Linked DNA regions of Homo sapiens: region 2 is linked to region 1. The links come from fine-mapping of genetic effects on gene expression. A gene starts in region 1. The other region holds a variant in brackets. All regions are shown on one strand. Distances are from middle to middle. Region 1 holds the start of CYB5R4 (cytochrome b5 reductase 4). Region 2 has its middle 14 kb from the start of CEP162.

Region 1 (5,387 bases):
CCAATAAATGAAGTGTGAGAAAATGACCTTTCCCATCCCAAACTAAAATCACTCACCTCTCTCCATTCCATAATCCACAGGATAGTTAAAGCAATCTTTCAGAAATGCAAATCTAATCACAGGCTCTCCCTCCTTCAGTGGCTCCTCAGGTCACCTTACAACAACGTCTCTAAATTCCCTAGGGATTTACCAGGTCTTCACAATCTGGTCACAGTTGACTGTACTAGCTCCATGTTCTAACTTTTGCTCCTTTCCATTATATACTTTAGCCAAATGGGAACTGATTATTTGATTCCTTTATTGCTGTCAAGTACTTGCTTATAGTAGTGTTGCTTTCCCTGCATGGATCAACCTCACTCCAACTCCCATTAATTCCTCTGGAAGGCTTCTCTGATCCTCAACTCCTTAGTGGTCATACCACCCTGTTGTAGTACTTATGACTTTATAACTGAATGTTCACTATTTCATGCAACCTATGAGACTAAACACCTTGAAATCAGAGACCAAAAACTCCAGCATATGGTAGGTTCTCAATAAGTATTTGTTTACCAGTATTAATAGAAATAATAACTATCATATGTTGAGTGCATATTCTGTGTCACACTCAAGTCTGTGAGATCTGAATAAAAGCCTCAGGACAAGTAGCATTTACTGGGTGCTTACCAAGGCTGTGCTAAGAGAAACATTATCTCATTGAATCCTATGAACAATCCTATAAAATGGGTACTGTTATTCTCATTTACATCTGAGGAAACAGACTCAAAGAGATTAACTGGCAGATATGGTGAAAGAATCTAGGTCTTTCTCACTTCAAAATCTGTGCCTTTAAAAAATTACAATAAGCCTTCACTTAAGCTAGTCACTAGGTGCTTGGAAACTAAACTATGTACAACGAAACTAATTTTACCGTGGGTTAATTGACAAACAAAATTTCCTGCAGCATATTTCTGGTCACAAAAACATCACCAGACTTCTAAATAAAGACCAAAATACTTCTAATATTAAACACTGAAAGAAATGTTAGCTATATATACATTTAAGAAAGATTAATTAAAAAACAAGTAAGATAATTATTTACCCAACTATTCCAGTTCAATGTCACAGGTAGTCAGAGCCTATCCCAGTAGCTCAGGGCACAAGGCAGGAACCGACCTTGGACAGGATGCCATCCTATGGCAAGGCACACTCATACACACCCAATATTCACACAGACTGGGACCATTTAGACACACCAATTAACCTAACTTGCATATCTTTGGGCTGTAGCAGGAAACCAGAGTACCCAGAGAAAACCCACGCAGACACAGAGCATGCAAACTCCAAAGACAGTGGCCCTGGCCAAAACGAATTTTTTTTCTCATCAATATTATAACTAAATGCTGTTGAATGAAACAACACTATTTGAGAACCTTTTGTATAATACACGACCTTCCCAACTTGGTTCTATTTTCTCAACCTCTACCCATTTCATCCAAACCTGACTCAGTTTTTACATTCTCAGCATCATCTTGTTTCACAAAGAAAAGAGGAAGAAGACTGGAGTCTGACTTTTCCTTAGAATTGCACAATAATCTTATTTTGTTCTCTTTTTGGACCAAAAACTCACCTTTGCCATCGCCCCCTGTGTGACTTTTTGTCTTTGCTTCTAAGTTTTCTCCTTTAAATGGATGCTAAGAACACAGTTGGTATTTTTAACGAAGAAGGGCAGTAACTCATATTCTAATTCAGAGATTCTTTCTGGAAAGACTGTTATTCAGTCAAGTATTTAGCTTCAAGAAATAGGTCAAAAACCAATGAGAAAAATATACATGATTGGATGGCTAGATGATTGATATATGAATCAGTAAATGAAATTTCACAGCAGAACCACAACACAAGCCTACGCAATTTAGGGCAATATTTCTTAGCCAGTTTCCTTTTCTGCGAAATAGAGACAATAAAAGCTTTCACTTCAAAGGATAATTGTGAAAATTAAAGTTAATACATGCAAAGCACTGAGAATATACACGGCCACCCGTAAGTACTTAAGAAATCTCTGGAAAGCTAATGAAAACCACAGATCCCTGAACCTATATTCATTCTGAACTAGAATCAGAACGCCAGGTCTAAGTGGAGAAAAATAAGAAAATCGATAAGGGTTCCAAACGATGCTAAGACTCAAGAGTTAACCGAGTGGCCCAAGTTAAGTGGAAGTGTCACAAACGAAAGATAAAGATATGGTTACAGAATGAGGAACTAACAAATAGGAACAAACAACATTCGCAAAAGAACAAAGAACACAATTTTTATTGAATTCTGCAAATATAAAATATATCTGTACAGTATTCCACCTGTTGCTAACAGCAACTGTGCTCAACAAGAACTCAAGAGTATTATTATATTTGCTTCGAAGTTAGCAAGTGATACTAGTAGAAAAGGCAATGACAAAACAATCAGGTACCAGAGGAAGAAAGAAAGGCAGTATGTCTTGGATAGTGTCTGTAAACCTGACCTAGCTCCCCAACTCCAGAAGTCCCCATCCTTGCACGGACGGTCACTGTCGCCACTGCCAAGCCTTTCCCTCCTGCGAGGGAACCCACATCGAGTGATGTGGTACAACTCCTTCAGGCAGTGAAGAACAAAAGACCAGGGAGAAGATGAGGTTGAGGGAAGGCGGCTAATACCGAGAGCCTATAATACCGCAAACACAGTGCCTGGCTCTGTCATATAAATTTAAATCGCGGGAAAGGACTTGGAGGAAGGGAACGGATAGAGCGGGATAAAGGACCAGAAAGAAGAGGGACTGCTAGGGGAAAGGGAGGAGGTAAGGAGAGTTTAGGGACTGTAGACAAAGTGGGATCAGAAAGAGGTTGCAGGCAAGGACAGCAGGGAACGACAGCTTAGAGAGGGGTGCAGGAGCTGGGAGTTGGGGCGGAAGAAGAGAACACACTGCCAGAGCTCGAAACGCAGCGAGGGGAGAGACTCACGGAGCCACCCGCTTACCTTGCTACGCCCCCCGGAGGCGACACGCTGCTGCGACCTGGGGGCCGGGAAAGACTGGGAAGGGACGTTCAGCATCTTCAAACCCCGGCCCCGGGCCCTGCCCGGGGATCGCCGCCAGACGGGACAGCACCTCCAGCTCCGGCTCTGTGGCCGGGCAGAGGCCAAGCCCCCGACCCACTTCCGGGGTCGCCAGGGGTGAGGCGCATTCTGACGCAGCACGTCCGCGGAGGGCGGAGCCAACGGGACGGAGGGAGGGCCGGCAGGGAGGAAGTACGCATGCTCAGCTAGTTCCGCATCCCGAACTTCAGCACCGGAGCAAGGTGACAGCTATTTCGTGGAAAGATTAGAGAGTGAAGCTGTTCCTTAGCCTTGGTGCTGACCGAATGTGGGAACAAATTCTTAGTCCTGTTAACCCGGAACAGCAATGTCTGTTCATTGTTAAGCAGTACCATCACACTACTTGAAATATGGACTAAAACACACTACTTGAAATATGGACTAAAACGAATTTTAGTTTCTCTGAAATTCTTTCCTGTAAGGCACTAGGCTGTAATGCAAAGAGCATCTCACACCTTTAAGAGCAAAAATATCAAATGTCAACAGCCACTACTGTGGGGTAAGAAGAAAACCTCACCTTTAATCATCCTTAAACTTCACCTTTAAGCATGCTGAGGGCTAATGAATGCGCGAAAGACGTTAGTAAAGTCACCTTCTGCTCTATTCACCCACTCACAAATTCTCCCTCCTTATGTAACTTCCTGTCTTCACTGGGAATTGTGTACTGATGCAGCTCACCTCCAGCTGTGGTGATGAAGTAACGTTTAAAAGTCAGATTTGGTTTGCATGCCATCCCTGCACTTAATGACTGAGCTGTCTTATGCAAGTTACTTTAGTATCTCAAAGTCTCATTTTCCCCATCTGCATAATGGGTTTATTAAAGATTAAAGGATCATGTGTAAACTACATACTGCAGTGCCTGATTAATATTAGGTACTGAATAAGTGGCAGTGGCTGTTTGTGCTATTCCAACATATTAATGGGAAAAGGACCAACACTGTGCAGGTAAACACCAGGCTCTAATGCTCAAAATCTGATGGTTTTTGTTTGTTTGATTGATTGTTTTGTGTGTCCCTTGGGGAACACATAGATCTTGAGAGTAGAATCCAATAAGGGAGAAAGTTTTCAGGAGAAGAAACATAGTTCTAAATAATCCTCCCCATCCTCCTTTAATTACTAATTTTTCCTAACTCTGAACATATTGTCATGCTTTAAACTTTCTCTGTTTAACTACTTAGTTCTTAAAGTGCCTAAAAAATCAAGGTTATGTTTGCAGAATCAGAAGAAAAAGTGTGTGACTATATGTGGCCATTCAAATACAAGCATTCAAATAAGGTAGCCACCTATGACATTCACCTCTATCCATTTTTATTTGCAATTGAAATGCTTATTATGAGAAGACTGAATTTGAGCTAAAAGAACCTCATGACTATAATTAACTGTATTACTTTGACTTTGCAAATTGCTTCTGTGTTCTCTCTCATTAAATGATGACATATTCTTCTAGAGTCTACACAAGAAAAACTAATCACTGAGATTTATTTCACTTCTCGTGAGAAAACTTTTACATAAGAATATCAAAAGCAGAGAACCAGAGCAAGGAAAAGTTAATATTGTTGAAGAATGTTCCATGCTTTCCAAATTTCTTAGCTCCCCTTTGTACAGAAATGGAAGATGCTATCAACTTCTGGCCTTTAGACTCCACTTTTTTAGACTCCATATCAATCACTCAAATTTAAACGTTTTGTTTTAATTCTAGGGATCCCTCAATGTAGTACATTAAGTATTAAACATCCATACTATTTTACTACTGGATTTAAGGACTGAAGAGGAGTATTAAAATATGAGTTACTTTGCTCATCATTTATTTAAAATATCTATAATTTAAAAGCCCTAAGATTGATTCCCTTTTTCAATTACAGGTAATGATTTAATGTGTTTTTCTCCATCTGCTAAGAAATCTTTACTAATAAATGAGTGATTTCTAACATAAGTCTATTTTCTTCATTATCTAATAAGATAACATTGATATGTAACTACAACATCCAACTGGCATCAGTAGGAAATAGCAGATGTTAAAAGATTCAGTCTTGAGAATTAAATACTGTCATTCTTTGCAAAATTATAACTAAATATAAATGTGCAATTTAACGAAAAGAAAAATGTATTCTTTGTAAGCCCCAAATATTTATAATACAATCAAGACATTTGTAGATGGCACCTGTTTTAGATTCCAACATTCAATTCTAGTGTAGGGATAAAGAAAAGGCCAAATACCAGAATAATTACAAAATATTTCATTTTATTAATAATTTATATACAAATAAATTAGTTTAAAATAATTATGA
Region 2 (5,387 bases), 380 kb before region 1:
ACCACCCCGTCTGGGAGGTGTACCCAACAGCTCATTGAGAAGGGGCCATGATGACATTGGCGGTTTTGTGGAATAGAAAAGGGGGAAAGGTGGGGAAAAGATTGAGAAATCGGATGGTTGCTGTGTCTGTGTAGAAAGAAGTAGACATGGGAGACTTTTCATTTTGTTCTGTACTAAGAAAAATTCTTCTGCCTTGGGATCCTGTTGATCTATGACCTTACCCCCAACCCTGTGCTCTCTGAAACATGTGCTGTGTCCACTCAGGGTTAAATGGATTAAGGGCGGTGCAAGATGTGCTTTGTTAAACAGATGCTTGAAGGCAGCATGCTCGTTAAGAGTCATCACCATTCCCTAATCTCAAGTACCCAGGGACACACACACTCTGCCTAGGAAAACCAGAGACCTTTGTTCACTTGTTTATCTGCTGACCTTCCCTCCACTATTGTCCTATGACCCTGCCAAATCCCCCTCTGCGAGAAACACCCAGAATGATCAATAAAAAAAAAATAAATTAAAAAAAAAATAGAATACTTTTATCAATTATAGACCCCACAAACCCAACTGAAATTAAATGTTATATTTATATTTGAAAGACAAGTAGTCAACAATACTTTGCACTTTAAAATTGCTCTTAAAATATAAATTGAGAGCACTAAAGTCAATAATTAGCCGGATGTCCTTGGAATCCACCAGATAATTTTATTCTTAAAAATTATTTTTCTTAATTTATAAATGGCATTAAGTAGATTGTGACTTCTTTTTTAAAAAGGCCTTGTAAGAATAAGTTTCAGTTTAAATTTCAAACTTAAATTTATTTTCAACAAAGCTCACATTTTCTGCTCTAAACTGTCCTTTCATGACCTCTGATGGTGAAAATGTAAACTGACATTACAAATACTATCAGAAATAATGCCACAAATTCCATTTACCTTATTATTGAAGAACTTTCTCCTTTTCATATTTATTTACCTTGAGAACATAATAGCATCAATTATTCAACAATATGGAAGTAATGTTGGACAATTTCATACTACTCCAAAGTGTTTTTTTAAAAGCCCTCTTATTCACAGCTTGTAAGTCTCTGATAATGTGTGCAATTTACATAGTAGAATGAACATTTTAGTGATATAGCAGCTTACTATGACTACCTGCTCTCAAATGTAAATTGAATAAATAATAGAGTTTAGATAAGTTGAAACAAATATTTTAATTTACAAAATCATTACTCTTCCTAAGTCTCGGTAGTTATGAGTAAGAAAGCAGACTTGCATATTAAAACCTCAATTCTTTATATTATTTTATTGTTTCAACTTAGTTAATAAGATTGTTCTCTAGGCCTGAGTTTCTTCCAAAAAGGCTTGCTCACAAGGAATTTATCTGGGAACATGGACCCGGAGAGCAGCTCTATGATTGGGGGAATAAAAACAGGGAAAATGAGAAAGCTGAAACAAGAATTCATTGTCAAATGACTGCAGCTATGGCTAACCTGTGCTGGATTCAAAGATCTTTTGAGAAGCCCTAATTAAATGCATGAAGAAAAGAGTATCATTTCTCCATGGGCTTCCACTCTCCATGAGTGAAGGTGGCTCCTGGGACTTTGACTACCACATAACCACTTGCAACTTGTGTATGTGTGGCATTTCAATGAACATTTCACACTTCAATGTCAGAAAAGTTCCAAGGAAGGGAGAAGCTCAGACCTTGGCTAAAAGTGAGGCAGTCTTCAGCTGCACCTGCAGGAAGCTGGTCAAAGTCTACAAGAATTGGTTGTTGAAACAAGGACTGCAGTAAGATATGGCACCAAGAAGATTTGAAGTGATGCTCACAGTGTTATCTGATGCAGTAGATCCTTTGCACTACTCAAATCTATCTTTTCACTTCCTTAAGTTCAATCTATCTCAGAGTCCCCTTTAAGGAGCTGGCCAGCCACAATCTCTGCAGGAGGGTTTCTGGAACTAGCTACAACCCCTGCTACAGCTGGTCCCCAGACTTTATTGAAAGGCATCATCTCTGTCTTCCATTACCAATGCTAGATTTCTCTTGCCCTTGGCCATCATCTCATCTGATTTAAGGTTTCTTGCCTGGCAGAGTAACCCAGACCTTTTTCTCAAGGCTTGCTTTTCCTTTATCACATCATAGATGCCATAACCACCCACTCACCATTATTACCTGGCATGAAAACACCAGCAGATGCATCAGTCAAGTCACTGGATAGTCCTCTCTGCCTCCAGTTACAATGGCTCTTTACATATGTAAGGATAGACTAGACTTTCAACTATATTAATTTTCTTTCGCCTGCTGATCCAGGAATGAGGAGTCCAATCACTGGAATGAAGAGCCCAAAGAGATAGTCAGCAAGAGATAGTCCATTTCTGTGGCACTCTTACCTGGCAGAAGTGCTCTGCCTCCTGGGAACCAGGACCTCTAATCCAGCAAAGCCTAAGATTTCAAACCTTACAAATAAGTCACCTGGGAGTAATGGTGAAAGAGACAAATTGTACTTCCAACCCTTGGTTCTTGAATCCATGTATTCTAGCTTAAAGGACACAGCACCATATATCAGCCACTGATATAATACATACATGTATCTCATCCTGTCCCAACCTGGAACTTCAGATGAGTCTTCCACAGGCTATTTTACCATAGATCATCAGCTTCCA[G/C]GTGATGAGGTATTTAGTAATCCCAGTGGATTCTATCATCATGCACCCATTGCTGAACCACCTTTGCCATAAAATGAGCTACTTGGGCAGAAACAATGTTGTGAGACATGCCATGTCAATAGGTAACACTTTCTGCAAGCCCTTAGTTGGTGGTGATGGTGGAGGCTTTACTGGCAGGGAGTGCAAATCCATTACTATAGTAGGTTTTAATTCCAGCAAGGATGAATTTTTGCCATCTCCATGGTGGAAAGGATCTAATAAAATTAATCTGATATGAAATGACTGGCTGGACTCTGACAATTTCATATTGAGGTTTCACCACCAGCCTCTACTACTGACAAGTTGGGCATTCAGCAGGGGGCAGTAGTTAGATCATCATTAGGGAGCTGTGCCCATTAATAGCCTCTTTTCCAGCTGTGGTGGCAAATTTGTTCACAAACCAAGTATCCAAGCAGTGAGATATGTAAAAGCGAAACAGAGTACAGCTCACACCCACAGAGAAACCTAACCTGTGTTATTTGTTGTCAAGTACCTCTTATTTAGAGTGCTCATTAGTGAGCATTAACATGAGGCATAGCAATGCTGTACTAGTCCATTTTCACGCTGCTGATAAAGACATACCCAAGACTGGGAAATTTTCAAAAGAAAAAGGTTTAATGGACTTACAGTTCCATGTGGCTGGGGAGGCCTCACAATCATGATGGAAAGTGAAAGGCGCATCTCACATGGTGGCAGGCAATAGAAGAGAGCTTGTGTAAGGAAACTCCTCTTTTTATAACCATCAGATCTCACAAAACTCATCCACCATCACGAAACTAGCACGGGAAAGACCTGCCCCATGATTCAACACCTCCCACCAGGTGCCCCCCACAACATGGCAGTTCAAAATGAGATTTGGGTGGGGACACAGCCAAACTATATCAAATGTGCATGCTATGTACCTACTTCCATAAATCCATCCATATGCCTCTTTCCCCAGATACACTTGTCTTTGATCTTTTGATCTTGTTTTTATCAAGGCCCCTGAACAAGAAGCAAAGCCATTTGTCACTACCCAGTAGTCTATGTATATGCTATAGATAATACCTCAGGCCATGTCTATCTCCATGTAAGTAACTGAAAATGTGCTCTGCTTAGAGCTCTTTGCACTGGTAGAATTTCTCTGTATTACATTTCTTTAGGGATACCTGTGAGTGTAGCAGTAGACTGACAACAGTCTATTTGTGGTTGGCATCAATAAATCACCCTTATTCATGTATGAACCAGGCCAGGGTATTTTCTCCTTCATTCGTTGGTCATAGGATATACCCATGAGGTAACAGGAAGAGGAATTCCTGTGTGAATCAGGAAGCAGCATAGTGTGAAAGGGGTAGTTATGGGAGTCTTGTTCATCCATTCAGGTAAAGTACATTACTTCTATGTTCTGTACCTGCTCAGGCCTTGTACCATTTCCACAACAGAGTGGATTTTCTGCTGTGCCTATTTGATGTTAGACTTGATAAAGTTGATAATTCTCAGTTCGATATGGCTCTAGTCACATAATCACTTTGCCATTTGATTTTTTCTTTTTTTTTCTTTTGGCTTTATATTTCTTTATTTCAGGAAAGTTTTCTTCTATTATACCCTTAAATGCTTTAAATATATATTTCTAAATTGTGATAAAAATACATAAAATTGCCATCTTATCCAGTTTTAAGTATACAGTTTAGTGCCACTAAGTACTTTTCATATTACATCTTTTACCACCATCCATTTCCAGAACCTTTTCATCTTCCCAGACTGAAACTTCATACCCATTTACCAATAATTCTGCATTCCTCCCTCCCCCAAGTCCCTGGCCACCACCATTCTACTTTTTGTCTCTATTAATTTGATGACTCTACGTACCCTATATAAGTGGAATCATATAATATTTATCTTTTTATGACTGATTTATTTAATGTAGCATAATATTTTCAAGGTTCATTCATGTTGTATGAATTTCCTTCCTTTTTTTCCACATTTTTAAAATTATACTGTAAGTTCTGGGATACATGTGCAGAATGTGCACATTTGTTACATAGGTATACACGTGCCATGGTGGTTTGCTGCACCCATGAACCTGTCATTTACATTAGGTATTTCTCCTAATGCTATCCCTCCCCTAGCGCCTAACCCCCAAAAGGAGCCAGTGTGGGATGTTCCCTTCCCTGTGCCCATGTGTTCTCATTATTCAACTCCCACTTATGAGTGAGAACATGTGGTGTTTGGTTTTCTGTTCCTGTGCTAGTTTGCTGAGAATGATGGTTTCCAGCTTCATCCATGTCCCTGCAAAGGACATGAACTCTTCCTTTTTTATGGCTGCCTAGTATTCCATGGTGTATATGTGCCACATTTTCTTTATCCAGTCTATCACTGATGGGCATTTGGGTTGGTTCCAAGTCTTTGCTATTGTGAATAGTGCCTCAATAAACATATGTGTGCATGTGTCTTTATAGTAGAATGATTTATAATCCTTTGGGTATATACCCAGTAATGGGAATGCCAGGTCAATGATATTTCTGGTTCTAGATCCTTTAGGAATCACCACACTGTCTTCCACAATGGTTGAACTAATTTACACTCCCACCAACAGTGTAAAAGCATTCCTATTTCTGAACATCCTCTCCAGCATCTGTTGTTTCCTGACTTTTTACTGATCACCATTCTAACTGGTGTGAGATGGTATCTCATTGTGGTTTTGATTTA

What was found. PIP is the estimated chance that this variant, and not a neighbour inherited with it, causes the effect.
Region 2: its variant is the best candidate, but not a certain one, in a credible set for the expression of CYB5R4 in whole blood (INTERVAL, PIP 0.87).

The regions. Positions count from the first base shown.
Region 1 is chr6:83,857,453-83,862,839 of GRCh38, reverse strand. It overlaps CYB5R4 (cytochrome b5 reductase 4), which reads right to left and starts at 3,151. Exons shown (of 16, transcript NM_016230.4): 1 at 2,983-3,151. The coding sequence starts at 3,057. All of the region lies in intron 3 of RIPPLY2-CYB5R4 (RIPPLY2-CYB5R4 readthrough), which reads right to left. RIPPLY2 (ripply transcriptional repressor 2) reads right to left here. Exons shown (of 4, transcript NM_001009994.3): 4 at 5,325-5,387. RefSeq lists a silencer at 3,031-3,080.
Region 2 is chr6:84,238,911-84,244,297 of GRCh38, reverse strand. No RefSeq gene overlaps it. Among named protein-coding and RNA genes, the nearest start is that of CEP162, 14 kb to the right of the region's middle. RefSeq lists an enhancer at 1-594. The variant G/C (reference allele first, on the strand shown) is at 2,661.